Linked DNA regions of Homo sapiens. The protein of the gene in region 1 interacts with the protein of each later gene in a pairwise test. Each region holds a gene or a part of one and is shown on either strand. Other genes may lie near its edges.

Region 1 (3,500 bases):
TGACCAACATAGTGAAATCCTGTCTCTACTAAAAATACAAAGTTAGCCGGGCTTAGTGGTGCATGCCTGTAATCCCAGCTACTTGGGAGGGTGAGGCAGGAGAATTGCTTGAACGCGGGAGGCAGTGAGCCAAAATCGCACCACTGCACTCCAGCCTGGGTGACAGAGCAGGACTCCATCTCAAAATAAATAAATAAATGCTCATTCTCCTTGGAATGAGTGAATTAATGGTTTAGTATGACTTAACAAGGCCTTTGTTACTTGACCTCTTTTCAATTTGTATCAGTTTCAACTCTGCTTCAGCCTATAAAAGTTTTTAGGACTTTTTTTTTGTTGTTTTTTTTTTTGAGACAGAGTCTTGCTCTGTTGCCCAGGCTGAAGTGCAGTGGTGCAATCTCGGCTCACTGCAAGCTCTGCCTCCCGTGTTCACGCCATTCTCCTGCCTCAGCCTCCTGAGTAGCTGGGACTACAGGTGCCTGCCACCACGCCCAGCTAATTTTTTTGTATTTTTAGTAGAGACAGGATTTCACCGTGTTAGCCAAGATGGTCTCGATCTCCTGACCTCGTGATCCGCCCGCCTCGGCCTCCCAAAGTGCTGGGATTACAGGCGTGAGCCACTGCGCCTGGCCTTTTTAGGGCTTTTATTGGCAATGGTCTCCCTTGCCTCCAGTCATCTGTCATCTGAAAAGTAATAGAAGCTACAGTGAAGCTACTGAACAAATTAGAACTAGAAGCTTGGTATACAGATAATAAAATTGTGCCTTTACCTTGTATGGGTTTGGAATAAATATTTATTTATTTATTTAAGATGGAATCTTACTCTGTTGCCCAGGCTGGAATGTAGTGATGTGATCTCAGCTCTCTGCAACCTCCACCTCCCAGGTTCAAGCAATTCTCCTGCCTCAGCCTCCCAAGTAGCTGGGATTACAGGCACCTGCCACCATGCCCAGCCAATTTTTGTATTTTTAGTAGAGACAGGATTTCACCATGTTGGCCAGGCTGGTCTCGAATTCCTGGCCTCATGTGATCCACCTGCCTCGACCTCCCAAAGTGCTGGGATTACAGGCGTGAGCCATCATGCCCGGCCAATAATAATTTTTAAAAAGAATACTTTTTTTTTTTAGGAAGGAAGAGGAAGAACTGGGATGGCTGAATCACTAAACATTGATTCCTGGCCTTGCACGGTGGCTCATGCCTGTAATCCCAGCACTTTGAGAGGCTAAGGCAGGCACATCACCTGAGGTCAAGAGTTCAAGACCAACATGGTGAAACCCCGTCTCTACTAAAAATATAAAAATTAGCTGGGCATGGTGGCGGGCGCCTGTAATCCAGCTGCTCAGGAGGCTGAGGCAGGAGAATCGCTTGAACCCGGGAGGCGGAGGTTGCAGTGAGCTATGATGGTGCCACTACACTCCAGCCTGGGCGACAGAGCGAAAAAAAAAATTATTATTAATTAGTTAATTTTTTTTTACAGACACTGTCTTGCTCTGTTGCCCTGGTTGGAGTGCAGTGGCGGGATCTCGGCTCACTGCAAGCTCCGCCTTCCGTGTTCACGCCATTCTCCTGCCTCAGCCTCCCAAGTAGCTGGGACTACAGGCACCCGCCACTGCACCCAGCTAATTTTTTTTTTTTTTGTATTTTTAGTAGAGATGGGGTTTCACTGTGGTCTCGATCTCCTGACCTCGTGATCCGCCCACCTCGGCCTCCCAAAGTGCTGGGATTACAGGCGTGAGCCACCGCACCTGACCTAATTTTTTTTTTAAATAAAAATATTTTTGGCTAGACATGGTGGCTCACACCTGTAGTCCCAGCAATTTTGGGGGCCAAGGTGGGTGGATTACTTGAGCCCAGTTGTTCAAGACCAGCCTGGGCAACATGGCAAAAGCTCATCTCTAGTAAAAATATAAAAATTAGCCAGGTATGGTGGTGCACAGCTGTAGCCCCAGCTTCTTGGGAGACTGACGCTGAAGAGTTGCTTGAACCTGGGAGGCTGAGGTTGCAGTGAGCCAAGAGTGCCACTGGACTCCAGTCTGGGTGACAGAGTGACTCTGTCTCAAAAAAAAAAAGATACATATATATACATACATGAAAAACTTTTTTGCGTTTGCCTTCCCAAAATTCGGGGATTACAGGCTTGAGCCAGTGCGCCTACCCCTTTCCTGTATTTTTTATAAACTGAATTTAAGGAAACTGGTTGATAATAAAATTGGCAATAAGAGGTATTGAAGTTTAATTTCATGAATACTGTCTTTCCTAACAGCCTTGGGTTCAACATTGTGCTTTATGGTTTGGGTTCTAAGAGAGATTTACTAGAAAGGTTTCGAACCACTATGCTGCAAGATTCCATTCACGTTGTCATCAATGGCTTCTTTCCTGGAATCAGTGTGAAATCAGTAAGTTTCAAAAATGTTAAAGGGAAAAACATTATATCCTCTGCCAATTCAAGCCCCCACATAAATGAGGATGGAGTATTAAAGAATTTTTGTTTTAGCCTTCACGGTAGTAGGATTGTATAGTGCTTAATACCATGTGTTTGGACTCAAGAATCTAGCTTTGAAACCATCTTCGAATGTCCTACATTGTAACTGACATGTATTAAAACTTAGGAAAATGTTAGCTTTGTTTACTATACTGAGTATCAGTGGTACTTCTGAAGGAGGGAATTATGGGGTCTTCAGTTTTGTTATAAACTATGAAAATGCTTTATTAGGCAAAAACTACATGCTGTGAAAATGCTTTAAAATGCAACAGGATGTGATGTGAAGACTGTAGTTTAACAATACATTTATCATAGATCATTTTTATTTCAAATGCTTAATATCTCTTCATCATTTGAACATGAAATCTTTTGGGTGCTGGATATTGAGCCATATAGTATTCCTTTTTTAAAGTGTCTGTAGTGTTTGTGTCCTGTTTCCTTTGATAGAACTGTAGTTTTCTAATGTTTCTCATGTTCTTGGGAGCTTTTTCATTTGTTTTTGCTGCCCTCTTATATTACCTATTACCTGTACATCTTTGCTATTCTTTTCTGTTTTCTTTTAGCCACAACTTAGGCAAAAAACAATGAATTAGATATACTCAAGTACCAGTAGAATTTTTAAAAGTTATTTTTTAAACTTTTGGGAAATCCAAATTCATTTTTAATTTATAAAAAAAGGTTTGATTTTCTAGTTGTATATGACAATAAATTGTAATTAATGTGGTACCTCTTCCACATTCATGATATAGGTCCTGAATTCTATAACAGAAGAAGTCCTCGATCATATGGGTACTTTCCGCAGTATACTGGATCAGCTAGACTGGATAGTAAACAAATTTAAAGAAGGTAACATGAAGTAGATGCTCGGTAGTTTTAGAGTAAAGTTAAGCATATACTTCTACTTATTCATGTATTTATATACATACAATATTATTATTATTATTTTTGAGACAGTCTCTCTGTTGCCCAGCCTGGAGTGCAGTGGTGCGATCATGGCTCACTGCAGCCTTGACCTTCTGGG
Region 2 (3,500 bases), on another chromosome or scaffold:
CAGGCGCAGTGGCTCATGCCTGTAATCCCAGCACTCTGGGAGGCCGAGGTGGGCGGATCACCCGAGGTCAGGAGTTTGAGACCAGCTTGGCCAACATGGTGAAACCCTATCTCTACTAAAAATACAAAAAATCGGCTGGGCCTGGTGGCACATGCCTGTAGTCCCAGATACTTGGGAGGCTGAGGCAGAAGAATCACTTGAACCCAGGAGGTGGAGGGTGCAGTGAGCAGAGATGGCACCACTGTACTCAAGCCTGGGCAACAGAGCAAGACTTCGTCTCAAAAAAAAAAAAAAAAAAAAAAAGGGATACAGAGAGAGAGACAACAGTAACATTTTGGAAAACACATTTCCCTCTATTACTTTGTCTTCATGCAATTATCACTAAATAAGGCAGAGCTTATAGAATAATAAATGAATGAAATATAAGTTAACATAAAAGAATCCAGAAAGTAGATTAAACACATGAACCACATTAAATGCTGTGAAGTACTAAAAAAGCCAAGATTCGTAATTGAAGAACACATTTGGGAATGACCAAAACAAATGATCTCAATTACCCAGTGCTCATAACAGAGTATACAGAAGTTATTCTCATTCTTAAGAGCAGTCAAAACCACTGGGCGCAGTGGCTTACGCCTGTAGTCCTAGCACTTTGGGGAGCCAAGGAGGGCGGATCACCTGAGGTCAGGAGTTCGAGACCTCCTGGCCAACACGGTGAAATCCCGTCTCTACTAAAAGTACAATTAGCCAGGCGTGGTGGCGCATGCCTGTAGTCCCAACTACCAGAGAGGCTGAGGCAGTAGAATCTCTGGAACTCGGGAGATGGAGGTTACAGTGAGCTGAGATTGCACCACTGCACTCCAGCCTGGGTGACAGAGCGAGACTCCATCTCAAATAAAAACAAAAAACAAAACAAAAAGAGTGGTCAAAACCAAAAGTAAACAAGTTCACAACAAAGTGAGATAAAATTCACAGGAAACAAAGTTCCTTGTGAATAGGTGGAATCTCCAGCCTAACTTTATTATTTGTCTGTCAGCTGATCAGGGAGGGAATTGTACTTAGAAGCTTCCTCTAGATGACCATTAAAGAACCTAATTTCTATTTCCCTAGTTTCATGCAATTTTACATTTTGATGATTTTATTACATTTCTAAAAACTAGCATCCTGTAATATACATGTATTCCTTCATTACTTGCAAACTTTACCATATACAAATTATATATGCCCAGTAATAAAAATAAGAATTATCAAAATTTAAAAGGAAGCATCAAATCTTGTAAGCTCAGATTCACTCTGTTAATGTTCTGGGAAGGAAAAATTTCCAACTTTTATTTAGTTCCCCTCTAATTTCCATTAAGTTCTTCTTACTCATCCTTATAAGTCTTAATTTAAAGCGTCACCTGTGTTCAGTTGGGCCTTTTGAGACCCTCATTCTAGGTTAAATAACCTCATTATTTATTCCCATTGCACTTCATACTTTACTTTTGTGAAACTCATCACACTTGCAAATACATATTTTCTATCTATCTACACTGCCAGACCATAAGGTGCATAAGGGTAGGGATGTCCGCCTTATCTGTTGCTTTCTCCCCAGTACTCAAAAATATGTGTTAATTAATCCCTTGATACAAGTGGAATTGAATCATTATGAAACCTAACATTCAAAAAAAAAATGTCTTTACTCTTAGCAACTAAGAAACATATAAATGAAAACTGTAAAAACATGACCTTAAATTTCAATCCCAACCTCTAATCTCAACATCTGCTTTCACTAATTTTCTTCTTTGTGGCAACCACTGAACAATTTTTTCATTTTTTAGCCTCGACATTTTCTGAGAACCAAATTAAGCATCCATTCCAGATTATTTTGTTGCTACACCAGCAAAGTAAAACTTCAGGACCAATCTGTAATTTTAATTTTCAAAATTATTTTCAGGAAGGGGAAATATTTCTGAGATACTTTAGCTTCTGATTAAAAGCAATTTTAGACTAATCATAGTTTTCTTGTTTATTACATAAAAACAAAAAAACTGACACAAAACACTAATATATTTTGGTTTATAAAACAAACTTCAATTCAGAGTCTGAAGACAGATATGTTCCAGTATTATTCTTTCCCCTTAACTTTCCCACCATCTTCTACCAAAACCGAACCAAACACCAAAACAAACCTATCTATTACGTAAAAAATTATTCAAATAACAGCTAACAATAAGCACTTACTATGTGCCAAACACTGTCCAAGCTCACACAGCCAGGGAGCCAGGATTCAAACCTGGCAGCCTGAATCCATAGCTCTTGCTCATCAGTTTACAAACTATAATAGTTCCCCCATTTTCATCCTATATACCCTTTGCAACTCTCCCATTTCTTTCTGCTACCTCAATGGTCTTTACTTCTTTCAACTCTTCTCTTCCCATTATAAATAATAAGCCCACTTTTTAATTGCTAAGGTTCAAAATACTATAGTAACCCTTGACTACCATTTTCCCTCACTTGCAACATCCAATCCATTGGCAAATCCTCTTGGTCCCACCTTTAAAACAAATCCACAATCTGACCATGTTTCAGCACTTCTACTACCACTTAGTCTGGACTATCAATATCTATTCCTTGGTCCCATCAATCATTTTAAATTGGGACCTTTGCACTTACTTATCTCAATATCCAGGTCTCATTACTTCATTTCTCTCAGGTCTCTACTCAAATGTCACCTTATCAGTTATGTGTTCCTTGTCTAGGCTAAATAGCAACATCCCCATTCCTATGTTCTATTTTTTCATAGCACTGATCTAATATTCTCTCTCTATATTTTTATTCTTCTTTTATCCTGTGGTTACCTATCTCCACCCCTATCCCACCCCTACCCTACAGAATATAATCTTCACAACGGTAAAAAATTAAGTCTGTTTTGTTCAATGCTGTTTGCCCAGAGTAGTGATCAGTATGTAGTAGACGCTCAGTATTTGCTGAATAAAAATTCATTTTCAATACTCATTTCCTCCCTTGAGTTCTTAAAATGTAAAATATCTGCATCAGAATAACAAGCTAAAATTTAAAACACAAGTATTACAGTTTTCGAAACAAGCCCCCAAAATATAAAATCACATTTACAGTTTCTAGATCTTCATATTTCTGCAAGCAACATTCACAATATCCTTTTTTCTTCTTCTCTTTCAACTGGAGTTGAATTGAGGTTCCACCATACTTATCGCCATCTGTTTGGATTCTGATGACAGACATACATGGTAAAGAATTAACTGCTGAACCTAAGGAATAACTTTAAAAATTTATTGTCCTAAACTATCACACACAATCTGCATAATTTGCAGAGACTTGTATCAGCAAGTACTTTTAATCATATTTCTTTATACTATATTGAGAAGCAAACTAAAGATTTAATGAATATTCTGGAGAATATTTCAGATCATTCAAGATAAACTACACATTTTCATTATTCACAAATATTTTAAGGCCCTCCCCACCTCCATCTAAACAGA

Evidence for each region.
Region 2: the proteins of ORC2 (region 1) and DBF4 interact in a two-hybrid assay, tested with the Homo sapiens proteins (one large-scale study listed by BioGRID).

Annotation. Positions count from the first base shown.
Region 1 is NC_000002.12:200,925,661-200,929,160, reverse strand, and holds part of ORC2 (origin recognition complex subunit 2), read left to right. Parts: intron 1-2,260; coding exon 2,261-2,393; intron 2,394-3,228; coding exon 3,229-3,325; intron 3,326-3,500. UniProt on the Homo sapiens protein: Component of the origin recognition complex (ORC) that binds origins of replication. DNA-binding is ATP-dependent. The specific DNA sequences that define origins of replication have not been identified yet.
Region 2 is NC_000007.14:87,900,493-87,903,992, reverse strand, and holds part of DBF4 (protein DBF4 homolog A), read right to left. Parts: intron 3,230-3,500; coding exon 3,115-3,229; intron 1-3,114. UniProt on the Homo sapiens protein: Regulatory subunit for CDC7 which activates its kinase activity thereby playing a central role in DNA replication and cell proliferation. Required for progression of S phase.